Linked DNA regions of Homo sapiens. The protein of the gene in region 1 binds, or shares a complex with, the protein of each later gene. Each region holds a gene or a part of one and is shown on either strand. Other genes may lie near its edges.

What was found.
Region 2: LSM4 (region 1) and LSM3 share a complex: the UniProt entries of both Homo sapiens proteins name them as parts of the precatalytic spliceosome.
Region 3: LSM4 (region 1) and PRPF3 share a complex: the UniProt entries of both Homo sapiens proteins name them as parts of the precatalytic spliceosome.
Region 4: LSM4 (region 1) and PRPF31 share a complex: the UniProt entries of both Homo sapiens proteins name them as parts of the U4/U6-U5 tri-snRNP complex.

The regions. Positions count from the first base shown.
Region 1 is NC_000019.10:18,306,069-18,313,090, forward strand, and holds the end of LSM4 (U6 snRNA-associated Sm-like protein LSm4), read right to left. Parts: intron 6,635-7,022; coding exon 6,536-6,634; intron 3,794-6,535; coding exon 3,610-3,793; intron 1,488-3,609; coding exon 1,396-1,487; 3' UTR 168-1,395; downstream 1-167. UniProt on the Homo sapiens protein: Plays a role in pre-mRNA splicing as component of the U4/U6-U5 tri-snRNP complex that is involved in spliceosome assembly, and as component of the precatalytic spliceosome (spliceosome B complex).
Region 2 is NC_000003.12:14,181,803-14,188,824, reverse strand, and holds part of LSM3 (U6 snRNA-associated Sm-like protein LSm3), read right to left. Parts: intron 4,889-7,022; coding exon 4,793-4,888; intron 1-4,792. UniProt on the Homo sapiens protein: Plays a role in pre-mRNA splicing as component of the U4/U6-U5 tri-snRNP complex that is involved in spliceosome assembly, and as component of the precatalytic spliceosome (spliceosome B complex).
Region 3 is NC_000001.11:150,324,533-150,331,554, reverse strand, and holds part of PRPF3 (U4/U6 small nuclear ribonucleoprotein Prp3), read right to left. Parts: intron 6,661-7,022; 5' UTR 6,613-6,660; coding exon 6,468-6,612; intron 5,805-6,467; coding exon 5,674-5,804; intron 3,999-5,673; exon of another isoform or gene 3,903-3,998; intron 3,236-3,902; coding exon 3,089-3,235; intron 1,104-3,088; exon of another isoform or gene 1,057-1,103; intron 1-1,056. UniProt on the Homo sapiens protein: Plays a role in pre-mRNA splicing as component of the U4/U6-U5 tri-snRNP complex that is involved in spliceosome assembly, and as component of the precatalytic spliceosome (spliceosome B complex).
Region 4 is NC_000019.10:54,111,014-54,118,775, reverse strand, and holds the start of PRPF31 (U4/U6 small nuclear ribonucleoprotein Prp31), read right to left. Parts: upstream 3,023-7,762; 5' UTR 2,979-3,022; intron 536-2,978; exon of another isoform or gene 506-535; 5' UTR 498-505; coding exon 321-497; intron 204-320; coding exon 143-203; intron 1-142. Other genes in the region: TFPT (TCF3 fusion partner), read left to right, coding at 3,507-3,529, 4,076-4,334. UniProt on the Homo sapiens protein: Involved in pre-mRNA splicing as component of the spliceosome. Required for the assembly of the U4/U5/U6 tri-snRNP complex, one of the building blocks of the spliceosome.

The DNA.
Region 1 (7,022 bases):
CATCTCTAACCATCAATCAAGTGCCGCTGTGGCGGAGAGGATTCAGGCGACTGCAGATATCCATCCCTGTCCCCCACCCCACACACAAGGAGAACATCCCAGGCGAGGACATTGTAAATGCAAAATCTATACGATGGCAAGTAACTCTGAAGACTCAAGAAAAAGAGTTCCTCACGGACGGGACCTTTTATTCCAATCACCTCTCAAAATAGGTCTCCGAACGAGGACCCTGAAGAGAAGGCTATGCAGGGGGACGGGCCGCTGCCTGGCTCAGGGCTTCCCTCTGGTTTCTTCACGGTCCACAGATGCTACCCGGAGCCTTTCTCGAAAGCGCTGACTCAGTGTCTCAGGTGCGCGCCCGAGGAGTGGCAAACCCGGCCTGGCTCAGAAAGGGGGCAGGAGCCTCGTGAGAATCTTCCATGAGCATCTTCCGAGGGGATTCCTGTCCTGTCTTCTCTGTGTGAACGCCAGTGTGGACAGATGAGGATAGATGATGGAGTCCAGGCCACCCAGGAGGGGGTGATGGGGACCATGCGTGGCCCCTGCCTGGGACTTCCCTCCCCACACACCCCTTGGCATTAACGTCTCCACAGAGGGGAGAGGGTTATAGGACAACCTGGTGTGGGGGGCGCCGGGGACTCTCAAGAGCCCCCACTGTCCAGATGCTGGTCTTGCCTTTTGTAAAAGGACATCAGTGCCTCACTGTGCCGCTGACACCTGGTGAGAACTCTCAAAAGGAAGCTTCCCTTACGGGAACGGGGATTTCCTGAGAGTCCAGCGATGGACAGAGGGCAGGAGACCCGCTAGGTGCACCCAGAAGCTCAAAAGGAACAGTGGATGTGCAGTGTGTAGTTTTATTTGTTTTTATTTCCATAACACAAGAGAGGAAGCGAAGGGCCAGGGCCCGAGGCATCCCCTGCACGGTTCGAAGGCTTTCAACCGTCCCGGGTTTGTTTTGAAGGCAATTTTGGGGCCGCGCCCAAGGAAACCCTGCAGGCTGTCAGTCCCAGCATGAACAGCTTAAAATAAAAATCTCCCGTCTGGTTGCTGCTCGGAGAGGCTCCAAGAAATGCAAAACAAACCCGCCTGGAAAATGCTGCCCTGAGAACCAGAGCGAGGGCTTGAAAGATGCCTTCAACACAGACTCTTCTAGGAATCCAGCCAGTTTTGGGACGGCCGTTTCACAAAACCAAAAAACACCAAGTAACATTTCTAACCGGAGAATTGCCGGTTTTAGCAAGAAAAAGGGGCTTCACCTAAAAGGGAGGGTCACAAAACACGAAGGGGGTTCCCCCTGGCGCCTGCCTCTTCCTTTCTGAGCAGATCCGTCCGAGACTGTGGAGCGGAATCGCCACCCTGGCAGGAGGGGGCGCAGCAGCCGGTCTGGGTGGGCGCTCACTGTTTGCCCGCCTGTCTGCCAGGCTTCTTCTCTGGCTGGCCTCTGCCTGTGCCCGGGATCCCACCTCGGCCCCGGCCACCAAACACACCTAGAGGACAGAGAGAGGGCGCTGCAGCAGAGCCAGGTGGGTGGGACCTTCGACAGGATCCCGGCGCCCTGAAACTCTAGGCCAGGTCACCTAAGTCTCCAGCCTCAGCTTCCTCATGTGTGAGGTGGTGACTGAGGGTGCTTGGATCTCCTCCGTGGGGCAGAGCATCTGAGGAAGGCAGGAACTCCAGGGCATCCTCATTATGGGACTAGACCCAGCCCCCAGGGATGCGGGGGGGGGGGACTAGGCGACAGAGGACACTAAGTCACATTGGGGGTTGGGGCAGGCTTCCTAAAGGACAAAGCCAGAAGGGTTTCCTGGAGGAGGAGGAGGAGGTAGGAGAGGCGTGGAGCAGAGACCAGGGCAGTAGGCCAGGCTGGGGGCTCCCTGGCGGGGGGGGGGCCTCCTATGCGCCACAACCACCCACAGCCCCTCATCTACCTGCCAGGAGGAAAACAGAAAGAGGGATTTCTGTGTATCCAGCCCCAGGGATGGGGAAGGGGAGGGGACTCCCCAGCAGGCCTGAGGCCAGAGATAGACCATGAGGACAAATGACATTTTCCATGAAGCCCCTGAGGTGGGAGCATGTGGCCACTGGGGAGGTGACAGGGGGTTCCCGGGAGATGAGGGCCCCAGGGACTGAGTGGACGCTACAGCGGCACCTCCAGTAATCCTGAGCAGGCTGCACGCAGGGCACGCCTGTCCCCACACCCTCTGTGTGCCTGGCGCCCCTTCACGCCACCCTCACCACAGGCCAGGCCTGGACGCAGCAGGTTGGTCAGGCCGGGACCCAACATTGATCCCTCCCTCTCTGTCTCCCTTGGGGACCCCAGCTCTGTAAGCCCCGTTTAGGGAGCCGTTTCAGAGAACTTTCTAGCTGGACGAACGCTTGAGGAAATCAAAGCTGGAGCTTCAAACAGCAGGAGAGCCAAGGCCAGCAAGAGGAGCTGGCCCTGTGGCCCATGTGCTGGGTGCCAGGGGCCAGAGGCCAGCGCTGCAGGCAGCATAGCTCAGGCCCTCCACAGAGCCCGCTGGGAGGCTCAGTCGTGGGCCAGGGAGGTCTGGGGACAGGAGGACTGACCCCAACAGGAACTGGAATCACGGTCTACTCTGCAGACCTCAACCCCGTGAAGGTGGGGTCAGGGGTCCAGATTCAGAGGATCTAAGAGGTCAGGGCTCTCACCAGCCAGGGGCCACCAGGCCCTGTGGGGACAGAGGCCAGAGGCCAACGCTGGCCTGGGCCACCAACCTCCCCTCTCACCAGGCAGGACCAGCTGTGCTAGGGTGCACAGCCTGGTGGGGGTTACTGCGAGGCTGCTATCTGCACTCCATGGCCCAGTGGCTTCCTGCAGAGCAGCCAGAGAAAACCCCCCACTTCCCTAGGTAGGACCCGACCCACTCTCTCAACAACCTTGACCCCAACTACTGGGAAGGAGCCAGGCCGGGGACCCCAGAGGCCCCACCCACCCTGAGATCCCCAAAGCTCCCTGCCTGGAGTACTATCCCTGCCCCTCCCTCGGGCTCACTCCTGACCACCTCGTGAGCCTGCACAGAATTGGCGCCTGGGGCCTTCCGGGGGCAGCCATGCCGTGCTGCAAGCCCCCAGGCTGGCACCTGAGCCCAGCACACAGGCAGTGCCCATGGATGGCAGAAGCAAAGCCCAGGTCCCCCCGAGAACACAGAGCTGGGGACAGAGAGGTGAGGAAGGGCAGGGGCTACAGATGGCCCCTGGGCCTAACAAATGGAATTTTATGCCAATTCATCATCTCCGGTGGGGGCGGGCGACCTTGGCTCTGGATAGAGCCACGCCAGGTTCCAAGTGGAGTTGCCAGCGGCCTGGACAGATGGGCACCACCATACCCTCTCAGAGGGGAAACTGAGGCTTGGGGAGGTGACTTGATGTGCCCTGAGGACCGCCAGGAGGCGCAGTGAGAGGAGGGCTGAGTCCCAGGTCTCGGGGCTCCTCTGCCTGGGCCTCGGCTCATGGCCAAGGACCAGGAGGGGGGCCCGGGAGGGTTGGGAGGCTCCGAGGCAGCGCTGCAAGGGCAACCCCAAGAAGGAGGGATGCCACGTGTGGCTGTCTTCCCGCCCCAGGTACGTCCACTGGAGAGGGGAGACCCACCTCGGCCAGCGCCGCCCATGCCGCGGCCTTTCTGCTGCTTCTGCTGCTGCAGGCCTCCGCGGCCGCGGCCCTTGGCCACCACCTCCTCCTTGACCATGTCGATGATCTCGTCGGGGATGCGCAGGTACTTGATGGTGCTGCCGCGGATGTAGCACTCGGGCATCCGCCAGAACTTGTCCCCGTCCTGCGGAGAAGGGGAGCAGGTTATTAACTTACCACCGGGCCGTCTGGCCCAGCCCTGGGAGCGCGGGAGGCCCTGCAGATCCTGCCCAGCCTGCACCCCGTACCACCCCTGCAAGCTGCACAGTATCAGTCCCGGGACATACGTGGCAAAGGGTCCACCCTGCAGGCAGGATCTGTCCTGACCCCAGGCAATCCTTCACCCAGGAGCAAGGGTGGGTGTGGTAGGCGCAGCCCCCATTGTGCACTCACAAGGAAGACTGGCTCCTATCCTCTGCCCGTGGGCCTGGCTCAGGAGTGGCTGACTGGGGCTCCCTCCAGCCTGGGATGGGGCTCTCTCTGGTTGGGGTTCTTCACCTGCAGCCCAAAGCCCAGAGCGGGTGGGGGCCTCCCTGTGCACCAGACACAGCCGAAGCCCAGCTACTCCTCCTCCTGCCCCAGCCCCACCTCACTTCTGGAAGCCTCTCTACATGCCCTGACTCATTCATTCATCTAAGTATCTCCTGACAGGGCCTGCGCTGGGTGCAGGGACATGCGAGCAAGCTACAGGCCTAGTGTGGTGGGTGAAGAGGGGCGGGAAATGGGGGGACTTGGGTCCTGCCAGGGTGGCTCAAGGGCGGCTCCCAGCGATGCCAGTTTTAGGAGAGCTAACCAAGACTGGAGAAATGGGGGCCTTGCAAAGACACAGACTCATGCTGCAATGCCTCCGAGGCCCCCACTGGGACAGATCGAGGGATTAGCAGGGGCCAGGGCCATTCCTACCATATCAGTTTCCCAGCCCCGCCCCACCGCCCAGGTTCCTGGACAGACCCACGCACGACGCCTGGATGGCCTTTGCCCCCGATGCCCTTTAAAGTCAGATCACAGTATGTTCCAGCTTGGAACCCACCCAGGGCCCCCTCCAGCCTGGGGGCAAGGTCTAAGAACCTCAGCAGGGCTCTCTAGGGCCCGAGATCCTGCCCCGCCCTGGCGGTCCTCTCCCAGCCCGACGACACTCCCTCCAGATGGAACTTTCTGTTTCCGGAACACACGCCATGGGCTTGCCCCCAGAACTTTGCACGTGGTTTTCCCACTTCTCATCTGGCTAACTTTGACCCCAAAAGGCCTTACCTGCCCGAATCCCCAAGTCCTCCTGTCAGACACTCTCCTCCACACCTGGGTAGGTGTGGCCTGGCCTAGCGCTGGGCGGGGAGGAACAGCCCCTTTGGGTGCTCACTCTCCCAGGAACCCCTCGAGGGCTCGTGGGGCGGACACACCATGGTTCTGTGGGGACTCAGGGCCTGGGCAGGTGACTTGGCGCCCAGCTCTCCCAGGCAGGGCCCAGAGGCTTCCTCGTGCAGGAACCTGGGCAGGGCCTGAGCTCACTGCAGGGAGGCCCCTGCCTCCTGCCCACAGCGCTCCAGAGGTCTCTCAGCCCGGGGTCTCTGCATCCTGCGGCCTGCCTCTGAGGGAGGGAGGGCCCCACTTAGATGGGGACGATGTGAGTTCCCATCGCCTCTCCTCCCAGCCACATGTGACGGCAGCATCACCGCCTGGCCACAGAGGCAGGCTGCTCAGGGAAAGCCATCCGTCCACTCGAAGCTGGAGGCAGAGGCCAAACCAACCCCTGGAGACCACGCAGCCTCTGAATCAACAGGCTTCTCATGTCTAGGACCTGGAGGTGTCCACAAGACCGCACATGCTCACGCACGCAACACGCCTGGTGATTCCAATACCGGAAGTGGACAGAGCCCCGCTGGCCGCAGATGGGAGGCACGCGGTTCTGCACCAAGGCACCATCCGACACAGCCAGACTGGACCCACCCAGACGCCCTCCGACAGGCTATGGCACGAAACCCAGCAAGCAGTTTCTAGAGCTTCTAGCGCTGCTGCACAGCAGCCTCACCACCTGTCCCCACCCCGCCCAGCCCTGTGCTGATGAGAGGCCCAGTCCCGGGTGGGGGTGGCGGTCAGGGCAAGATACGGCCACTTCAGGAAGAAGCGCCTCCCCCCTCGAGCCCTGTTGTCCTGTCAAGGTGACCCCAGGCAGGCACTCCAAGCTCCCCAGCAGTTTCCTCCCTATACCATGGGGGGCTGTCACCCACAGGGAGACAAGACAGATGGGGTCAGGGAAGGTTGGTGGGAGGAGTCCAAGGGAGCCGCTGCCTTCAGCACCATCCCTGGCCTCCTCCTCAGTGCTCTGTGGGTCATCCCAGGGGCAGGGAAGGCCCGTGACACCAGGGGAACCATCTTCCAGCCCCGGCCGACCCAGCAGCACTCCTAGCCAGGCACTTCCGGTCTTGGGCTCTGGCTGGTGGCTCCTGACCCACCGGGCCCTGGCGCTGCTCCTGCCCACCGTGACCTGGGCATCCCGGACATCCCAGGGCCACACTACCATGGCCCGCAGAGTGCAGGCAACATCCAGGCTGGACTAAAGGCAGCAGAGTCCGGGAGTCTTGGGCCTCCCCTGGAGGGGGCTGCCCCAGCCTGAGCCACAGGGAGTCCCCAGTCCTAGGTCCTTCCAGGTCAGGGGTGGCACCAACAGACACACAGCAGGAAAGTCTCCCACAGGGTCAAAGTCCAGGGCACACTGGGAGACTTGGTGGCCTAGCTCACCCTGCCCTGTCCCTCCTGACTGACCCCTGGAAGGACGAGCAGTCCTAGGCGGCCTCCCCCACTGACTCCTCCCATGAGGCCCAGGGAGGGAGGGAGGAGGCTGAGTGTGCACCCCCTGCATCCCACCCCCGTTGGTGGGTGCAGCACCCACCCTGGACGTGCAGATGACTTCTCGCAGGTTAATGTTCATCCAGTTGTCGCAGCTCACCAGGTGTCCATTGTACGTCTCCCCATTTTTCAGCTCCACCAACTAGAAGAGAGACAGGCTAGAGGTTGGCTGTAGCCCTGGAGCCCTGCGCCATGGGCCCCTCAGGAGGTGTAGCTCTGCCCTGAGATGGACCACCACCTCCGGGCCTCAGCCCACAGTTCCCAGACCCCTAAATGGCCTTCCTTACAGGCGACAGGCTCTGCCTCCGCTAGACACTTCGCTGGCAGTTAGACAGTCTATCATGACGCCAACCTTTGTGCAATTAAAAAATGATACTGGGCCGGGCGCGGTGGCTCACGCCTGTAATCCCAGCACTTTGGGAGGCCGAGGCAGGCAGATCACGAGGTCAAAAGATTGAGACCATCCTGACCAACATGGTGAAACCCCATCTCTACTAAAATCATAAAAATTAGCTGGGCATGGTGGTGCA
Region 2 (7,022 bases), on another chromosome or scaffold:
ATAATTAAAAAAAAAGATAAAGATAAAATTATTTACAGCAGAATAGGTTTTACTAGCAAAATATTGGAAATGGCTATCTGTCCATCAACAGGAAAACAGTTAAATTATGGTACATCTACACAGTGAAGTACCATAAAGCTAAAAACGAAAGCACAAGGAAGCTATGTATGAAAGGGAAAGAGCACTGTGATAAAAAAACAGGGGAAGGGAGAATAACTAACACTCATTAGCATATGCATAAAGACACGAGAAGATTCTCAAGAAACCAGTAATAGTGCTTATGTCTGGGGGTGGGGTGTAAAGATGATGAACAGAGGCTGGAGTGGAAGACATTTTACTGCACTGTGTTCCTTTCTGCATTTTGTAATTTTAAGACTGTGTGAGTCTAGTATCTATTCAAAAAGTTAAATTAAAATGGAAGCAATTTAAAATGAGTAAGAAAAGAAATATGTGTTAAGTACTATACGGTGATATGGACCATATGGTCTCAGCATGGACCATAAAGAGTTAGTTATGTATGAGGGAGCAGGTCTAGAGCTGCTCTAATATGAGTGCCACTAGTCACAGGTGGCTCATTAAATTAAAATTAAATAAAATTAAATGTGCAGTTCCTTAATCACACCAGCATCCATTTGAAGTGCCAAATAGCCACATGTGGCTCATAGCTCCTGTAATGACAGCATAGATAGAAATTTTCACTGCTGCAGACAGTTCTATTATTACAGTGCTAATCTACAGAAAGGTCTAGAAGAGCCATCTGATGCTGTAGAAGGCCTTCGGGCAAGCAGAGGGAGCAGAGGGCTTAGTTACAAAAGGGCACAACGTCCCCAAGAGAAACTGTCTGGTGAGCCAAACTACGAGGTGTTTGGTGAAGGAAGGTAGTACACATGATGGACAGCCGAAAAAGTAGTCTGGGTCAAATAACACAGACTGTTCACAATCTGTAAAATGGAAACTCCAATTATGGAGGACCAAGAATCAGAAGAGTAAGACTGACTGCTTTCCACCTTCCCATTTATAAGTCAGCAGCCAAATTAATTATTTAGAAGTCAATTATGTAAGTTATAGGGGGAAAAAAACCCAACAACCTGATGGTTTATGGGTCCCCCATACTGTTTTGGTGGTAAAACGTTGATGTTCATTAGTTATTTCAATAGACGAGAGAGAGAGCGAAATGTAAAATGGGCCAAGGTAAGAAACCATTTAGTCTGGTTTCCCATCTTGGAGAGGAGTAACAAGAGCGCACAGGAGAGTGAAGTAGTTGTTCTCCATGGCACTGAACCAGATGCAGACACTCTCTATAATATCACTGTCTTTGCTTTCTATGTCTATAGTTAATACACATTTACACACTAAAGTATTCTCAGTCATCCAAAGATTCAATTTTAAATGTTTTACCCAATACATCATGGCAATGTGAAAAAGAACTCATTAACTAAATAGACTTTGCTTACTGTTCTCAGCTGCAACTCTAGGCGCAAGAGAGGCCACATGCACGCAGCACGCAGCGTTCAGGAGCTAACCAGCCCCAGTAGCCTTTCAAGGCAGCAATTAATCTTAATGGAGGTCAGTAACTACTGAGACTCTGTTACAGACACCCCACCCAGAGAAATGCACATGTGCACAGACACATAGCACCTTCAAACAGTGTCAGGAGGAACCGCACTTGGAGCAGACTACTAGGGATGACACAGGTGGACCCTGCTGTTAGTTCACTGCAAACATGGAGTAAGTGGCAGTGTTCCCTTCTCTGTAATAGACACCACAGTTGAAGAGTCATTTCTGTCACAAGCAGAATTCAAGACAAGAGCATTAAAATGCTTATGAAGAGTCTACTCTCATGGTAAAATTCTTATGTTAATGATGTTACATGAATAAAGCAGAATATTAAAGCCACATATTCCATATTTTATCACATTTAAGGTATCATTTGTAAGCTTAGTTGAGCTGAAAAAGGATAAATTTTGCCAATTAAACTATGACACAATTCTTTTTTTATCACATCACCTGTAAGATGCAATCAGATTTTTAAGATGCTAAAATTTAAGAAAAAGTGCATCTTAGTACTTATGATTGTGTCCATGTTAAGAAAACAATAACCACTAAACAATAGTTAATAAATGAAATTCCTAAAGGGGAAAAAATGCAGATTTTAAAAAATGCTATTCTTTCTTGGAGAAATAAGCCAGCAAAAATACATAAATAAATAAGTAAAAATTTTAAAAAAAGAAAAAAATGCTAAATGTTTACACTCAGAAGGAGAAAGAACACTAGCAAAGGAGTCAGGTGTGGTCAGAGAGAGGAGGAAAGCCAGGATAAAGCAGAACTACAAAATCCAGTGAAGGCTAACAGTTTAACAGTGACAACGTGCCTGTCACTATCTGAAGGCTTTTCATGTAGCCCTCAATGAATCCTCCACAGTTGTATGAAGTGGGTCCTATCATTACTCCCATTTTACAGACAAGGAAACATATCCACAGACAGGTTAGGTGAGCTGGCTCAATTAAAAAGGTGGTAAGCAAGGGAGTCAAAATTTGAATCCATGTAGTCTTGTACTCTGAGCCCACATTTTAACCACTATGCCCTGGCAGGGTCAGAAACTGTCTTTCCAAATCTTAAAGACCTTTCTTTCTGCTACGGCCTGGCATAGTGGCTCCCACCTGTAATTCCAGCACTTTGGGAGGCCAGGAGTTCGAGACCAGCCTGGCCAACATGGTGAAACCTGTCTTTACTAAAAACACAAAAATTAGCTGGGCGTGGTGGCACATGCCTGTAATCCCAGCTACTTTGGAGGCTGAGGCACGAGAATTGCTTGAACCTGGGAGGCGGAGGCTGCAGTGAGCTGAGACTGACATTGCACTCCAGCCTGGGTGACACAGTCAGACTGTCTTTAAAAAAAAAAAAAGACCTTTCTGACAAGATCACTGGTGATAACTAATAAATGTGATTTTTTTTAAACACTGAAGAAATAAAATGAATCTGCATAGCCCAGTGAACTACTATTTTCTAAAGAACCAGTGCCTGATGTAACCAAATCATGCATGAGTAAGAGATCCATTTGAGGTGCAAGGCAGATTAATGAATTTTCACCTAACAAGAGTACGAAAAGTTTACTGTTACCGTTTCAGATTCCAGATGGCAAATAATCTTTGACTGACTACCACTTGTTCAGTTTGGGTGTAGTATCAAAGGTAGAACATTCACAAAACAAACTCCTTCCTTTCCAACTACCTATCTGTGTGGTCAGATTTGCTTCAATTACAACAACAACTCATGATAGATTTAACGCAGAAAAAAGATATGAGAATCTTCTAGCTGTTATCGATTAAGCGGGGCATTAAAGAGATTTGCAAAAATGTAAAACAAAGACATTCCTCATTAAAATTTTGTTTTAGAAAATAGTTATTGTTCATAAAAATGTTACTTACAGTAACACGTGATAGGTTTTTTTTTGTTTTGTTTTGTTTTGTTTTGAGACAGAGTCTTACTCTGTCCCCCAGGCTGGAGTACAGTAGCACGATCTCAGCTTACCGCAACCTCTACCTCCCAGGTTCAAGTGATTCTCCTGCCTCAGCCTCCCGAGTAGCTGGGATTGCCAGTGCCTGCCGCCACGGCCGGCTAATATTTTGTATTTTTAGTAGAGACAGGGTTTTGCCATGTTGGCCAGGGTGGTCTCGAACTCCTGACCTCAGGTGATCCACCCGCTTTGGCCTCCCAAAGTGGTGGGATTGCAGGCATGAGCCACTGCACCCAGCCTTTTTTTTTTTGAGACAGCGTTTCACTCTTGTTGACAAGGCTGGAGGGCAATGGCACAATCTCAGCTCACTGCAACCTCCGCCTCCAAGATTCAAGCAGTTCTCCTGCCTCAGCCTCCCAAGTAGCTGGGATTATAGATATATGCCACCACACCCAGCTAATTTTTTGTATTTTTAGCAGAGACAGGGCTTCACCATATTGGTCAGGCTGGTCTCGAACTCCTGACCTCAGGTGATCCACCTGCCTCAGCCTCCCAAAGTGCTAGGATTACAGGTGTGAGCCACCATGCCTGGCCAGGTTTTTTTTTTTTTTGAGACGGAGTCTCGCTCTGTCGCCCAGGCTGGAGTGCAGTGGCGGGATCTCGGCTCACTGCAAGCTCCGCCTCCCGGGTTCACGCCATTCTCCTGCCTCAGCCTCCCAAGTAGCTGGGACTACAGGCGCCCGCCACTACGCCCGGCTAATTTTTTGTATTTTTAGTAGAGACGGGGTTTCACCGTTTTTTTAGCCGGGATGGTCTCGATCTCCTGACCTCGTGATCCGCCCGCCTCGGCCTCCCAAAGTGCTGGGATTACAGGCGTGAGCCACCGCGCCCGGCCCAGGTTTTTTTAATGAATAAATATTTAAAAAATTTTTCAGTTTCAGTTTCTAATAAATTAAGTATTAATAGATCAAATCCACAGAAAACGAAAGAACACTGTCCACTATTACTGTTACACACTATTATACATAGCCACCTTGCATTGTTGTATCTCACTGAATCTGGGAACCCTATGAGGTAAGTGGTAGTATTCCTGCTCACCAATGAGAACTCAGCTAACTTAATTCCCTTGCCCAAGGTAGCCCAAGTAGGAAGTGGTCAAGCCAGTACTGGCAACAGGGTCTGTCAGATGCCAGAACCCTTGCTTTTAATTGCTATGCTCTACTGAGTCCATAAGTAGGTGTCAAAACATGACAGGCTTCCCATAAATATGGGTTAAGCTGTTCGAGAGAGAACAGCTGATATTTGCAAAGCAATGAATAGAATTGCATGACTTACTTTATATATCTCTTCATATGTTTCTTCATCAATTTCTATAGTAGTCACAGTTTCTTCCACATCTCCCAAGATCATATTTAAATGTTGATCATAAGCCTAAAGTGGGAGGGTACAGAACCAAGAAATTTAATAATCAAATTACAAAAATGATAAAGGCTTAACAATATGCAAATTGCTCAATTACAACTAGGGCATTTGATACTTACATCACAAACTTTTACATGCAAATAAAAAGTAATCCTACAGTACTAATATACTGTTTCTTCACAAGTCACTTCCAATGATTACTTAATTGACCTGATAAAAATATAAAACTGCTTATATTGCCAAAAATAAATTTACTTCAAATCACTTGAAATTATTTTTAAAGTCTCCACCCCACTTGTTATCTAAGGCAGTCACATCATTTATAATATTTAATTATGAAAAACAGCAGATTCATCTTCATCATTTATCAGTAGACATCCTTCAATTTCACCTATAACAATCTGACAAGAAAAATACAGTAAAGAAGATAAAATCCTTTGTTTACTGGTAAGATAATGCCATTGCAGTCTTCTAAAGGCACACAGTAGACCACATGTCGCAGAGAGAAAGTAAGTAGAGCAACACCCTGCCCATTTCTAACCTATCCAGAACTTAAATGTGTTTAGTACCTGTGGGCTCAATCAATAAATGTTACAGCTAAGATATTCAATCCAAGCTCCAAAGTTCATTCATTTTACTAAAAGGTGCACTTTCTGGGACCTTGTTCAGAACTCAAGTTTACTTCTAACAACGTGTTACATGGTTCACCTGCTCACATCAAAATAAAAGTCACTTGTCAGCCATGTGGGGAACTGCTAAGCAGGGCACACTAACAAGATCAAACATGTATAGCTGAGAGGCACAAAACAAACAGAAAGTTGGGGCCATTTAGGATAGAGACCATCAAGTTTACACAGGGAACTGAAGAAGCCTCCAAGAGCCACAAACTTAAGTAATTAAACTCAATTCCATTTGTATTCCCAAAGTTACCACCATTCCTTTCCTGGAGTCTCTCTTCCTTTAAGGCCAGCTGTAGATTGTCTCCCTGGGTCCCTATTTCCTTTCCAAGCCCAGAGGTTCTTTATCTTTAGGTTTTGTGGAAGGCGGAACCACAGTACTTAAGAGTGGGGCTCAGGTCAGACAACCTAGATTCAAATTCTGGCTCTCCCTTTACCGTCAAGTGACTGTACCTTTCTGAGCCTGAGCTTCCTACACTGCAAAGCAGGAATAATTAGTATGTATCATCATAGGGTTGTTATAAAGATTAAATGAGATATCACACACAAAATGCTTAGAATAATAGTACCTGGTCTATAATTAATGCTCAATAAATGTTAGCTATTTTTAATCACTTTAGGGTAGAGTAGCAATACTAAAAACAACACACTTAGGAAAGTAACAAGTCATTAAGGAGAGGCAAAACCTTCAGGGTTCTCTATGAACAAATGGGATTATTTCAAGGGACCAATTCTACAGATATTTTGCAGATATGCACAAAGAAATATGTAAAAAAATGCTTACTGCAAGTATTTACGTATTTGTAGCAAGAAATGAAAAAAAATCGATCACTATCATATACAGAATCCTAGGTAGTCATTAAAAAGAATAAACGAAAATTAAATGCACTCATGATCAATTTCCAAGAAAGATTAAGTGAAAAAAAAAAAAGGTACTGAAAAACATGTATGGCAAGATCCATGTTTTGTAGAGGTAGGGTGTACATAATGCAAGTATGTGCACATGTACATATATGAGTGTATATGTGTAAACATACAGAAAAGGTAACCCAATTTTTAAATTTTATTTTTTGTAGAGACAGGGTCTCTCTATGTTGCCCAGGCTGGCAACACAGAGAACTCCTGGCCTCAAGTGATCCTCCTGCCCCAGTCTCCCAAAGTGCTGAGATTACAGGAATGAGCCACTGCACCTGGCCAAGATAATCCCATTTTTAGTAGTGATTACCAGTAGAAGAAATGGGATTTCACTTTTTACTCTATATATTTTTGTGCTGTTTAACTTTTCCTAATAAAACACATATTTGTGTTTTAAATTTAAAAAACATTTACGAATGGAGGACAAGTAAATATTATTTACAAATAAACAGAAGGGAAAAATGAAGGGAATAAAAATGTTCTATAATAAACGTATTTCTATTAAAAGAAAAAATGTTAAAAATGTGAATACATGCCGCTTTATTTGGCTT
Region 3 (7,022 bases), on another chromosome or scaffold:
CGTCTCTAGTAAAAATACAAAAATTAGCCGGGTGTGGTGGTGGGCGCCTGTAATGCCAGCTACTCAGGAGGCTGAGGCAGGAGAAGCGCTTGAATCCAGAAGGTGGAGGTTACAGTGAGCCAAGATCATGCCACTGCACTCCAGCCTGGACAACAGGGGGAGACTCCATCTCTAAATAAGTAAAGAAAGAAAGAAAATAAAAAAATTAAAAATTACAGGGCTGGGCGTGGTGGCTCACGCCTGTAATCCCAATACTTTGGGAGGCTGAGGCAGGTGGATCACGAGGTCAGGAGATCGAGACCATCCTGGCTAACAGGGTGAAACCCCATCTCTACTAAAAATACAAAAATTAGCTGGACATGGTGATGCACGTTCTGTAATCTCAGCTACTCAGGAGGCTGAGGCAGGAGAACTGCTGGAACCCAGGAGGCGGACGTTGCAGTGAGCTGAGATCACGGCATTGCACTCCAGCCTAGGCAACAGTGCAAGAGCGAGACTCCGTCTCAAAAAATAAAATAAAATAAAATGAAAAATTACAGGCTGGGCCTGGCAGCTCACGTCTGTAATCCCAGCACTTTGGGAGGCCGAGCCGGGCGGATCACGAGGTCAGGAGTTCGAGACCAGCCTGACCAACATGGTGAAACCCCGTCTCTACTAAACATACAAAAAAATTAGCTAGGCGTGGTGGCGCGTGCCTGTAATCCCAGCTACTCAAGGGACTGAGGCAGAAGAATAGCTTGAACCCGGGAGGCGGAGGTTGCAGTGAGCCGAGATAGCGCCATTACACTCCACTCTGGGCGACAGAGTGAGACTCCGTCTCAAAAAAAAAAAAGAAAGAAACATAACAAAAGGATATGTTGTGAATACGTCCATCCCCATTCTCCATAAAAAACATCATTGGGCCTGGCACGGTGGCTCATGCCTGTAATCCCAGCACTTTGGGAGGCCGAGGCGGGTGGATCACGAGGTCAGGAGATCAAGACCATCCTGGCTAACATGGTGAAACCCCATCTCTACTAAAAATACAAAAAATTAGTCGGGCATGGTGGTACATACCTGTAGTCCCAGCTACTCAGGAGGCTGAGGCAGGAGAATGGCGTGAACCCGGGAGGCAGAGGTTGCAGTGAGCCGAGAACGCGCCACCGTACTCCAGCCTAAGTGACAGAGCAAGACTCCATCCCCCACCCCCCAAAAAAGAAAATAATTGGCTGGGCGTGGTAGCTCACGCCTGTAAGTCCAGCACTTTGGGAGGCTGAGGCAGGAGGATCATTTCAGCCCAGGAGTTCAAGACCAGCCTGGGCAACATGGTGGAACTCAATCTTTAAAAAAAATACAAAAATCAGCCAGGCATGGTGACCTGTAGTCCCAGCTACTTGGGAAGCCAAGGTGGGAGGATCACTCAAGCCCGGGAGGCAGAGGTTGCAGTAAGCCAAGATCTCGCCACTGAACTCCAGCCTGGACAAAAAAGTGAGACCTTGCCTGAAAAACAAAAACAGGCTAGGTACGGTGGCTCACGCCTATAATCCCAGCAATTTGGGAGGCCAAGGTAGGCAGATCACTTGAGGTCAGGAGTTCCAGACCAGCCTGGTCAACATGGTGAAACCCTGTCTCTACTAAAAATACAAAAATTAGCCGTGCGTGGTGGCACATGCCTATAATCCCAGCTACTTAGGAGGCTGAGGCAGGAGAATCACTTGAACCTGGGAGGCAGAGGCTGCAGTGAACCGAGATCGCACCACTGCGCTCCAGCCTGAGTGACAGAGAGAACATCTCACACACACACACAAAAAAAATCCATTTCTTTCCTTCTGTAAATATCACATATATGCAAATCCACCCACCCATATTTCTGTATATGTTCTATTACCCCCCTCAAATATTAAATGGTAAAAGAAACACTTATGTGGTATTATTTAACAATGCCAATTGAAAAAACACAAATACTTCCTGTTAAAAAAAAATAAAGTCAACTTAAAATTATTTATCAGTGGATTATATCTTCTTTGCATTATGTTTGGAGAGTCTCCTCTGTCATTAAGATGAGTTCTGATCATTTCATTTAATTTTCTCAATGACTCAACGACATAGGTAATTAGGCAAATAATGTACATAACACACTTTGCTTGCCACAGTAAATGGCAATTTCAATACCCTTACCTAGAATACTCCTGGTCAAATCAAAGAACGCTAAAACATAAAGCAGGAAATAAAATTTTCCCAAATGCTGGCCTGGCATGGTGGCTCACACCTGTAATCCCAGCCATTTGGGCGGCTGAGGTGGCAGATCACTTGAGGCCAGGAGTTCCAGAGCAGCCTGGCCAACATGACAAAATACCATCTGTACTAAAAATACAAAAATTAGCCAGGCGTAGTGGTGTTCGCATGTAGTCCCAGCTACTCCGGAGGCTTAGGCAGGAGAATCGCTTGAACCTGGGAGGTGGAGGTTGCCGTGAGCTGAGATCACGCCACTACACTCCAGCATGGGCAACAGAGTGAAACTCTATCTCAAAAAAAAAAGTTTACCCCAAATGCTAAACACTAATTCAAATCAAGATCACAATAAGGCGAGGCACGCTGGCTCACGCCTATAATCCCAGCACTCTGGGAGGCGAAGGTGGGCAGATGACCTGAGGTCAGAAGTTGAAGACCAGCCTGCCCAACATGGTGAAACCCTGTCTCTACTAAAAGAAATACAAAAAATTAGCCGGGCGCAGTGGCTCGCTCCTGTAATTCTAGCACTCTGAGAGGCCAAGGTGAGTGCATCACCTGACATCAGGAGTTCAAGACCAGCCTGGCCAACATGGTGAAACCCCATCTCTACTAAAAATACAAAAATTAGCCAGGCTTGGTGGTGGGTGCCTCTAATCCCAGCTACTCAGTAGGCTGAGACAGGAGATTTGCTTGAACCCGGGAGGCGGAGGTTGCAGTGAGCTGAGATCGCGCCACTGTATTCCAGCCTGGGTGACAAGAGCAAAACTCCACCTCAAAAAAAAAAAAAAAAAAAAAATTCCACAATAAATACAGACCCATGCACCTTTTGCTTCTTCAACTCACAAAACCACTTTGCTTCCAGTCCCTAATCACTAACCTGGAGCTTAGTCAGCATGCCAGGGCTCTCTGATGGAGGCCCAGGGATCACCTCTGGCTCTTCTTCCACCTCCTCAAAACGGGGTATTCGTCGCTTCTTTACTCCTGATGATTCTTTAGAGATCTCAGAGTCATCACCAAACACCTCCTAAGGGAACCCAAGATGAAAGAAAAGCTGTATCCCTCCCCGTGGGGAGAAGGGAAGAATTATCCTAGCCCCTACCAGCATTTTCTGGCTATTCCCAGGGGAATATGACACAACCTTGCAAATAGCCACCTGCCAGAAGCAGGGTCTACTAGACTCTCCATCTCACCCAACTTCAACATTCTCCTAATCCAGTCAAACAAATTTCATTCCCATGTTCTTATAAATGTTCCCATCTCAAGGTCTTTGCAAATGCTACTGCTCACATTTATAATGATTTCTCTCAACTTTTCCACAACCCCTGTTCCAAATCCTGCCTAAAACTCACCTCCTCCAAGAAGTTTTCCTCATTATAACCTATCCCACTCTGATTAAACTTTTGTTTCACATTCTCTTAGCGTGTAAGAGCTTGGTTCATATTAGGTTAAATTACATTGTTGATATTCTGTTTGCCAAGTGTTAAGTATTTCAATGTTAGTATAGTTTTCCCAACTAAGTCTAAGCTCTTCCAGGACAGGGGCTTTCTCTTTCTTCTTCAGTAATCCCCATTAACACTTTGTTTTCATCAAACAATGGAAACTCAAATATGATGACTAATTTGCAAGGTGAATTTAACAGGACCGAGAGTGGCCAACTGGAAGGGACAATGGGAAAAAGCAAATGTACACACCGGTGGTAGGCTTTGGGTGACATCCCCTCTTCACTAGGAGGGCTCGTGTTTTGCAAGGACATATCCTCGGCCAGGGGCGAGCGCTTCCTGGAACTCCTACAGTTCAAGAAAAAGGACTCTCCCATAATATATTGTGTGGGGTGGGGACCTGAATGGACCAAAAATGGGACCCGTATCCCAAGGCTATCTAGACACCTCCTTCAAGAAGCCATTTTTATTAATCCCACCCAATGTAGTCACTTCATTCACAGCATGCCCTCAGCACTCATACAGAAGTATGCCCTACTGGCCAGGCGCAGTGGCTCATGCCTGTAATTCCAGCACTTTGGGAGGCCGAGGCGAGCAGATCTTGAGGTCAGGAGTTCGAGACCAACCTGATCAACATGATGAAACCCCGTCTCTACTAAAAATACAAAAATTAGCCAGGCATGGTGGCATGTGCCTGTAATCCCAGCTACTCAGGAGGCTGAGGCAGGAGAATCACTTGAACCTGGGAGGTGGAAGTTGCAGTGAGTCAAGATTGCGCTACTGTACTCCAGCCTGGGCGACAGAGTGAGACTCACCCTTAGAAAAAAAAAAAGGAAAAAAAAAAAGAAGTATGCCCTATCGTGACATAATCTTCACTGTACAGATCTGTGTATACTGTGGATCAATCATTCCACCTTAAATATAACAAAATTCAACATAGGTCTGAAATTCTATAACCAACCCTAAAATTTACATGAAACTGCTACTTAGATTTTATAATACGTGAATATATATTTTGTGATACCCCTGCCTCTTCTAAATTGTAACTCCTGGGCTCAAGAGATCCTCTTGCCTCAGCTTCCCAAGTAGCTAGGATTACAGGCACATGCCACACTGCCTGACAAATTACAAATTGTTTTAAGGCAAGGACTATCTCTCCTTCTCTGACCACCCTACAATGCTCCAAACACAAAGGGCACAAATCTCTCTGCTTTTTTTTTTAGTTCCATAGCCTGGCCAGGGGACCAAGCAGACATTACTTATTCACTCTTTTCCCTCAGGAAAAGTAATGGGATAGCCAAGGTATCAGAAGAACTTTGGAAGGTTTGATAGGAGTCACAGAACTTTTTTTTTTCTCCTAAAGAGAGATACTGGGAAATGAGTAGAAAAATAGGCTACTTGATACTGCTAATACTGAAAGAGGCCAGGATCAGTCGGCAACTACAGAATAAAAAGTGTAGTAGTTAAGGGGGTACTGACAACTCCTCCAAGTGTTTCACTCATGGCAGCAGAGGACCAGCAATATGCCATAGAGCAAATGGTAAGCTCTCAAGAATATAATAAATAATAGTTATTTTTTGGTATTCTATCTACAAGTGCATTGCAGAGAAACCTCTACAAAGAGGCAACAATGAGGTGTACAGCTCAGGTACCAGTGGAGTCACATTCTAAAACAACTTATTAGGCCTCAAATAAATCAAAGATAAAATCTTAGAGCAATCAGTTTATAAGTAACAGTAAGAAGGAAAAAAAGGAAATATGGAGAAACATGAGAATCAAAACTCCTGTTATCTAAAAAAAGACAAAGCTGCCAATTATTTCTTTGGATATTTCAACCCATGAACTTAGAGGTAGTTCAGATGGTGATGACACTAATTCATCTCTCCTACTCTAATGTCTAAGTACCTCTCTTGAACATTTGCTGCTCTAAATAGAGGATATCAACGTGTGAACTGGTAAGCTCAGCAACTCTGTTACCATTCAAAACAGTCCTGAGCTCATTAGACAGTAAATTGTAACCTACCTTTAGCTCTCGTTTTCTGCTCCTGTCACTGCTAGACTTGGAATGCCTAGAGCTTCGGCCTTCCTCCACAGCCTCAAACAGTTTGTCCACAAATCGGAGAGTAGAATCATCAAGAAAAGGTTTCAGATGATCTGACAGGAAGAAAGGCGGTGGTAGGGTTGGAAAGGTAAGAGTACACAGTCTAATACTAGGCCTATAACAGGTACCAACACTGGAATTTTATTCCCAGGAGTGAAACAAATTTTAAGTTTTTTGTAGGATTCCCATCTCTCTTACACTAAATGACCTTGCCCTGTGAGGTGAAAATAGTTATAATTTTTTGGCGTGGGAAGTGGTGCAGTTAGAGCAACCTGTTTACCTTGAACATCAAGTTTGAGATGAATAACCACCCTCACCTTTCCCAAATAGCAAGTTGTAGAAGCCTACCATTAACAAAATCTACCTCCTTCAAGCTTTTTCATGTATTTCATAAAGATTTTTGTATGTTGAGATGTTCAGTCTGAATCTGAATATGCCTATCTGACTTAAGCATACTTCCTAAGTAAATCTAACTTAGGTGACTCAGTATGGTAGCCAAACGAAGATTTAAAATCTATCATAAATAACATAAAAAATAAGCAATTAAGAGAAAAAGCAAATTATTATTTAGCCTATTTTCACTATAATACAGGTGAAAATAAAATATGGCCTGCCATTTTTTTAGATGTTCCCAACAGAGAGAATTTTGAGGAAGTTCAAAGCAGTGTTTGGGGTCACCCTATATGTTAAGATAAAAGATGCAGAAAGGTACATACCGGCTGCCTTCTTCTTGTCCATGCCCTTCCCCACACAGTTCAATGCTGCTGTGACCACCGTAGGCTCTGAGAAACCCAGGACCCTCTTCACTGTCTTCTCTATCCATGGTTTCAGCTCATCCAGCTCCCTCTTTGACAGTGCCATTTTTCAGGAAAAAGAGAACAATAGCTCAAACAGGACTCAATACTACACCTAAAAAAAAAAAAGAGACAAGTTAGAGAATAAGAAAAGACTAAAGTGGGCTGGGTGCAGTGGCTCATGCCTGTAATCCCAGCACTTTGGGAGGCCAAGGTGGATGGACTGCCTGGGGTCAAGAGTTCGAGACCAGTCTGGCCAACATGGTGAAACCCTGCCTCTACTAAAAATACAAAAAAATTAGCTGGGCGTGGTGGCATGTGCCTGTAATCCCAGCTACTTGGGAGGCTGAGGCAGGGGAATAACCAGGGAGGTAGAGCTTGCAACAAGTCAAAATCGCACCACTGCACTCCAGCCTGGGCGACAAAGCAAGACTCTCTCTACAAAAAAAAAAAAGACTAAAGTGATCCAGGGAAATG
Region 4 (7,762 bases), about 36 Mb from region 1:
ACGGGTTGGGGTGAAACAAAAAAAAAAGAAGGCTCTGGAAAAGGCTGAGAAGGAGATATACCCAGCCACAAGCAGCCAGGGAGCCAGGGGGCCTGGCAGGAGAGACAGGAGATGGGGAGGGGCACAGAGTGGGAGGAAGCACCTTCTGAAGCTTTGGCTTGCTTGCTGATATACTCCTCAATCTTCATCATAATCTCAGCAAACTGTAGGAAAGGAGAAGACAGTCAGAATCCAGCACTCTTCAAAAAGAAGCCTGTATCACCCCCTTCTGGGAGATTCTGTCTAGAGCCCCCTGCTAGGAACACCTCTTGTCCTCTTACCATCTTACTATCCCATAGCTTGGCGATGGTCTTGACTGAATCCCCGGAAAGATCCAGCTGTGTCTCCTCCTGCACATCCTCGATCGCTGGCTCCTCTTCTTCCTCCCCATAGCTTCCTCCTTCCTCCTCTTCTGCTGCCTCTTCGAGATCAGCTAAGAGCTCATCTGCCAGAGACATCCCGAGGCCTGGGGAGGGACAGCAGCGTTCCCTAAAAACTTGCCCCGACAAAGTCCCTCCTTATTACTGAGCGATGATTCTCCCCCAGAAGACCCTGGTCCTTCTTTATCAACCCCACTAGCATGCAGGCTCCACGACAACAGGTGCTTTAGTTTGTTTTGTTCACTGGCGAGTCTCCAGCTCCGACCTGTGCAAGACGCAGCACACCCCTATGACCGCCACCTTGCTAAGACTTACTGGAACCAAGTGGTGTAGATTCCAAATGCATTTGCAAACTTTCTTATTCCTTTCTTGCCTTTAGCCTTGAAAACATACTTTGAAATTCTTTGTTTCCCTCCTTTCCCACTAGATACTGTCTTGCACTGCTGGCTTATCTATGTGCTTACTTAGAAGTTCCAGGGGCTAATCTTTATTTATTTATTTTTTAAAGATGGAGTCTGGCTCTGACACCCAGGTTGGAGTGCAGTGGCGCAGTCTTGGCTCACTTGCAACCTCCACCTCCTGGGTTCAAGCGATTCTCCTGCCTCAGCCTCCTGAGTAGCTGGGACTACAGGCACCTGCCACCATGCCCAGCTAATTTTTTTTTTTTTTTTTTGTAGAGTCAAGGTTTCACTATGTAAGCCAGGCTGGTCTTGAACTCTTGACCTCAAGTGAGCGACCCACCTTGGCCTCCCAAACTGTTGGGATTACAGGCGTAAGCCACCGCGCCTCGCCGCAGGGGCTAATCTTGAAACAAACTAGGTATGGAAACCCAGCTGCAAAACTCCAGAGATCACCTCAAGGCGATCAATCTACAACGTGGCCATTGTTGACTTGACACCAGCCCATGCTCCAGGTGGCCCGTGACTCAAGACAGCCTTCGGAGCAAGACACACATACCTTGTACCCAGCACCACTCCTGTATGCCTCCCATTCAAAGTTCCCCTTTTTAAGCCCCTCTCCCCAGCCTAAAGCTTGAAATGGTCTTCTAAAGACATTAGCTTGGCCATTTCTCATCTGCGAGCATTTGATCAGTAAAGCTGCTTTACTTTCACCACCCCCCACTTCCTCTGCCTCTGAGTAGCAGAAACTTGAGTTGGTTACATTATCGGTCTCTTCCCGCCTCCAGGTCTTTGTACAGGAGTCCCTTGTAACTAAAGTGGCCCTTTCCTTCACTTTGTTTTTTCTTTTCTTTTCTTTTTTTTGAGACCATGTCTTGCTCTGTCACCTAGGCTGCAGTGCAGTGGCGCCATCATAGCTCACGGCAGCCTCGATCACCTGGGCTCAAGCGATTCTCCCGCCTCAGCCTCCCGATAGCTGAGATGACAGGCACGCACCAGCACGCCCGGCTAATTTTTAAATTTTTCTGTAGAGACAGGGTCTCACTGTGTTGCTCAGGCTGGTCTCAAACTCCTGGGCTCAAGCGATCCTTTCGCCTGGGCCACCCAAAGTGCTGGGATTACAGGAGTGAGCCATGGCGTCTGGCTCTCCTCACTTCTTAGTAGCCCAGCATCTCCTCAGCCTTCAGCTCTCACGTTCCACCTCCCTGACCCACACGCCCCACTCTAGACTACAGGAGGTTGCTTTGTGATAACGTGTCCCGCACGCTCTGCGTGTCTACAGTAAGGCACTTCACACATTTGTGATTAATGAAGTAATTATTTGATAAAGCCTGTCTGCCAGGCATCAACCAAAGCTCTAAGAGGGTAGCGAACAATTTTTGCTCCTTCCACATCCCCAGGGCCACACCATGGTAGGCGCATATTAAGACTTTTGGGTAAACAGGCTGTAAAAGGCCGGGAGCGGTGGCTCATGCCTGTAATCCCAGCACTTTGGGAGGCCCAGGCGGGTGGATCATCTGAGGTCAGGAGTTGGAGACCAGCCTGGCCAACATAGTGAAACCCCGTCTCTACTAAAAATACAAAAAACTAGCCGGGCGTGGTGGTGCGCGCCTGTAATCCCAGCTACTCGGGAGGCTGAGGCAGGAGAATCGCTTGAATCCGGGAGGCGGAGGTTGCAGTGAACCGAGATCGCGCCACTGCACTCCAGCCTGGGCAACAAGAGCGAAACTCCGTCTCAGACAAAACAAACAAACAACTGGCCAGGCGCGGTGGATCATGCCTGTAATCACAGCACTTTGGGAGGCCGAGGCGGGCGGATCACGAGATCAGGAGTTCGAGACCAGCCTGACCAACATGGGGAAACCCCGTCTCTACTAAAAATACAAAAATTAGTCAGGGGTGGTGGCGGGCGCCTGTAATCCCAGCTACTCTGGAGGCTGAGGCAGAAGAATCGTTTGAACCCGGGAGACGGAGGTTGCAATGAGCCGAGATCGCGCCACTGCTCTCCAACCTGGGCAACAGAACGAGACTCCGTCTCAAAACAAACAAACAACAAAAAAACAAAAACCAAGCTGTAAAGACCCGCCTTTTTCCTCACACACTTCTTCTCCCAGACCCAGGAGCCCAGCCTCCCGCTCCCCGTGGTCCCCATCACACTCACCTCTCCTCTCCGCGCACCACTGTTTCTAGCGTTAGTCGCTCACCGATGACGTCTCACTCTCGCGCCGTTATAGAGGCAAAGCTACTCTCTGATTGGTCCCCGCTCGCGATGTTCCTGGCCGCATTTGAAACAACAACTTTATTAGCACCTGGCACTAGGCGGAGAGAGGCGGTAAGCCGCGAGGAGGAAAGGGACTCACGTCCCGCTGTGGACCGATCCTGCTAAGCAGAGAATCGCTGTGGCCGGACGACGGGGCGTCGAGACAAGAAGAAAGACGTTGGCAACTCAGAGGACTGGTTGCGGCGTTAGACAAGAAAGCAAGGCCTTTAAGCAGGGATTCGGGGTGGACGTGGGGGTGGGCCGAAGCGAAGCCGGAAACAGGAAACTACAACTCCCACAAGGCCTAGGGCCACGTCCCGCCGTCCTCGGCTGCTGAGCCTGATGGGACAAGTAGTTTTGCGAACGGCTTAACCTACAGATTGAAGAGGTCGGAAGCTCTGAGGCCCGGGGCTTCCGGAGGTCGCGGAGATGGAATTGGAGCAGAGAGAAGGGTATGTGGCTGAGCCCTTGTGAAAAAGTGCGAATCCCAGAAAACAGTGCAGCTGCATTGTGTGCAACCATATGAGCTTTTACGCTGAGGTCTGATGGGGGTTGTAGTTCATGCAACTGCTTTACCTTAGAACCCTTTTATGGACTGGGGTCATCCTGAGGGAGGAGAAGGTTAGGGGTTTGGACTGCTGGATCTGACAGACTAGGAGGTTGGAAGCCAGGACTCTTGCGTCTGGTTGAGGGTTGGGGCTTGGACTCCCTGGGTCCTTGGAGAGAAAAAGTCTGGAGGTCTGGACTCTTGCATCCTGGGAGGAGGGGGTCAGGGCTTGAACCCTGTGGGTGCTGCGAAGGGTGGGTTGCGGACTTGGACTTCTGGGTCTGAGGGAGGAGGGCTGGGAGCTGGATTCTACGGTCTGAGGGAGGAGGGGCTGGGGGCCTGGATTCTAGGATCTCAGGGAGGAGGGGTTGGGGTCTGGGCTCCTGGTTCAGTGGGAGAAGGGGCTGGGGGTCCAGGATCCAGGGCCCCTGAGCCTTTCCCTGCCTCTCAGGACCATGGCAGCCGTGGGCTTTGAGGAGTTCTCAGCGCCGCCAGGCTCAGAGTTGGCGTTGCCTCCCCTATTTGGTGGCCACATCCTGGAGAGCGAGCTGGAGACGGAAGTGGAGTTTGTGTCAGGTGGTCTGGGCGGCTCAGGGCTCCGGGAGCGAGATGAAGAGGAAGAGGCAGCCCGGGGTCGGCGGCGGCGCCAGCGGGAATTAAATCGCAGAAAGTACCAGGCACTAGGTCGGCGCTGCCGGGAGATCGAGCAGGTAGGTGAGTGCGGATCCCCCGGTTTTGGGGTCCCCTGGCCTAAACTACCGCCCCCCGCAATCTCTGCCTTTCCACATGCCCAGCCTTTCTTGGCTTGCTGATATATTCAGTCATTTAGCTTATATATTCAGTCATTTAGCATGCATTATGTGTCTGGCCCTGTGCCGGGCCCCTGGAAGGGCCATCTCCCGTGGAGCTTCCCTGACAACGCAGATGGGTTCTCTGATGTCTCCCGGGGGCCTCTCAATGCGTGGCACCGCTCACAGGTGAAAGCCCAAGCTCTTCACATCTCCCATACCCCTGCCAGGATTCACTCCTCTCGACTCATTCATTCCGCCTCTTGAGTGTCTCTGGACCCTTCTCCTCTCCTCCATCCCTATGGCTGCCATTGCAAACTCCAGCTGTCTGGGCTGAATGACTGCAATAGCCTCCTTGCTGAGAATAAGGATGGGCTGGGCATGGTGGCTCACGCTTGTAATCCTAGCACTGGGAGGCTGAGGCAGGCGGATCACCTGAGGTTAGGAGTTCGAGACCAGCCTGGCCAACATGGTGAAACCCCATCTCTACTAAAATACAAAAAAATTAGCCAGGTGTGGTGGTGCGCACCTGTAGTCGCAGCTACTAGGGAGGCTGAGGCATGAGAATTGCTTGAACCCGGAAGGCGGAGGTTGCAGTGAGCCAAGATCATGCTGCTGTACTCCAGCCTGGGTGACAGAGTGAGACTCCGTCTCAAAATCAATCAATCAATCAATGAGGATTAAACAGCAGGCAGGGCTCAGATCTTGGCAGGCCAGGAACACCAGGACAAGAAGTCTGGATATTTTTTTTTCCTTGAGAGTGAAGGAGCCACTGAAGGGTTTCAAATGGGGGAGGAACAGCATCAGGTCTGGATGCCTGAAACTCTGAAGACAGTTGTATTAGTCTGCTTGGACTCCCAGAACTTATCACAAATAGGGTCCCTCAAGCACAGAAATTCCTGTCTGACAGTTCTGGAGGCTAGACATCCAAGGCAAGGTGTCGACAGGGTTGTGAGAATCTTCCAGGCCTCTCCCCTGGCTTCTGGAGGTTTCTGGCAGTCATTGGCACGTACAAACATCACCCTGATCTCCGCCTTCATCTTCACATTGCTGCTCCCTGTGTGTGTGTCTGTGTCCCAATTTACCCTTTTTATAAGGACTCCAGTCATACTGGATTAGGGCCCACCCACTGGCTTCATTTGAACTTGATTACTTTTGTAACGACACTGTCTCCATATAAGGTGATCCTGAGGTACTGGGGGTTAAAGCCTCAACACCCTCTTTTGGGGGAAATAATTCAACTTTTTTTTTTTTTTTTTTTTTTTTTTTTGAGGTGGAGTCTCGCTCTTGTCTCCCAGGCTGGAGTGCAATGGCACCATCTCAGCTCACTGTAACCTCCACCTCCTGGGTTCAAGTGATTCTCCTGACTCAGCCTCCCTAGTAGCTGGGATTACAGGCGCCCGCCACCACACCCAGCTAATTTTTCTATTTTTAGTAGAGACAGGGTTTCACCATGTTGGTCAGGCTGGTCTCAAACTCCTGACCTCAGGTGATCTGCCCACCTCAGCCTCCCAAGGTGCTGGGATTACAGGCTTGAGCCACCACGCCTGGCCTTCAACTCTTTTTCTCTTTCTTGAGACAGGTTCTCACTTTGTCACCAAAGCTGGAGTGCAGTGGCGCAATCTCAGCTCATTGCAGCCTCAGTCTCCCAGGTTCAAGCAGTCCTCCTGCCTCAGCCCCCAAAATAGCTGGGACTACAGGCACACACCACCACACCTGGCTAATTTTTGTACTTTTTGTAGAGATGGGGTTTTGCCATGTTGCCCAGGCTGGTCTTGAACTCCTGACCTCAAGTGATCCACTCGCCTTGACCTCCCAAAATGCTAGGATTACAGGCATGAGCCACCACATCTGGCCTCAATTCTTAATGACAGTATTGGGGAGTTCTGTAAGGAGGAAGGCTAGAGGCCAGGGGCATATTCCAAACCCTGTTTAACAGACAGACACCAAGGCCCAAACGGACTCAACTGGAGCCTCTGCCATTAATCCACCCCCAGGAATAGATTACTACTATTTTACAAGTATAGAAAATCAAGGCTCAGAGAGGTTAAGTAATGCACCCAAGCTCAGAGCTCAGCAGTGGCAGATCTGAGATTTTTTTTTTTTTTTTGAGACAGGGTCTTTCTCTGTTGCCCAGGCTGGAGTGCAGTGGCATGACTGTGGCTCACTGCAGCCCCAACATCCTGGACTCTAGCAATCTCAGCCTCCGAAGGAGCTGGGACTACAGCCACCAAGCCCAGCTAATTTTTTTGGTTAGTTTTTGAGTGTTGGGGTCTCACTCTGTTGCCCAGGCTGGTGTCGAACTCCTGGCCTCTCAAAGTGCTGGGATTATAGGCATGAGCCACTGTGCCAAGCCAGAGCCAAAACTTGAACTCTTTTTTTTTAGATGGATTTTCGCTCTTGTTGTCCAGGCTGGAGTGCAATGCTGCAATCTCAGCTCACTGCAACCTCCGCCTCCTGGGTTCAAGCGATTCTCCTGCCTCAGCCTCCCGAGTAGCTGGGATTACAGGCATGCGCCACTACACCTGGCTAATTTTGTATTTTTAGTAGAGACAGGGTTTCACCACGTTAGGCTGGTCTCAAACTCCTGACCTCAGGTGATCCGCTCGCCTTGGCCTCTGAAAGTGCTGGGATTACAAGCGTGAGCCACCGTGCCTGGCACTTTTTTTTTTTTTTTTTCTTTTGAGACAGAGTCTTACTCTGTCACCCAGGCTGGAGGGCAGTGGTGTGATCTCGGCTCACTGCAACCTCCAGCTCCTGGGTTCAAGCGATTCTCCTGCCTCAGCCTCCTGAGAAACTGGGATTACAGGCATGCGCCACCATACCCAGCTAATTTTTGTATTTTTCTTTTTTTTTTTTTTTTTTTAGTAGAGATGAGGTCTCATCATGTTGGCCGGGCTGGTCTGCAACTCCCGACCTCAAACTCTTGAGTAGCTGAGATTACAGGCATGTGCCACAACATCCGGCCAATTTTTGTATCTTTAGTAGAGACGGGGTTTCACCATGTTGGCCAGGCTGGTCTTGAACTCCTGACCTCAAGTGATCTGCCCGCCCCGGCCTCCCAAAGTGCTGGGATTACAGGCGTGAGCCACTGTGCCCCGCCCGGAACTCAGGTCTTTCTGACCCAGGAGCAGCACCTGCTTCAGCCACTGTCTTTGGGTCCCTGTTTGGCTGAGTCACATCTCTCCCTCCATGTCTAGGCTGGAGTCCTCAGAAGCTGCGTGCAGGGCTGTCCCCTCAGCCTGGCATACTTTCCTCCTGTCACCCCTTTGTCTCCTCCTTATTCAAGTCTGGGCCCACGGGCCTTCTCTGCAGGTCGTAACTAAAGTCGCACCTCCTGCCCTAACCTC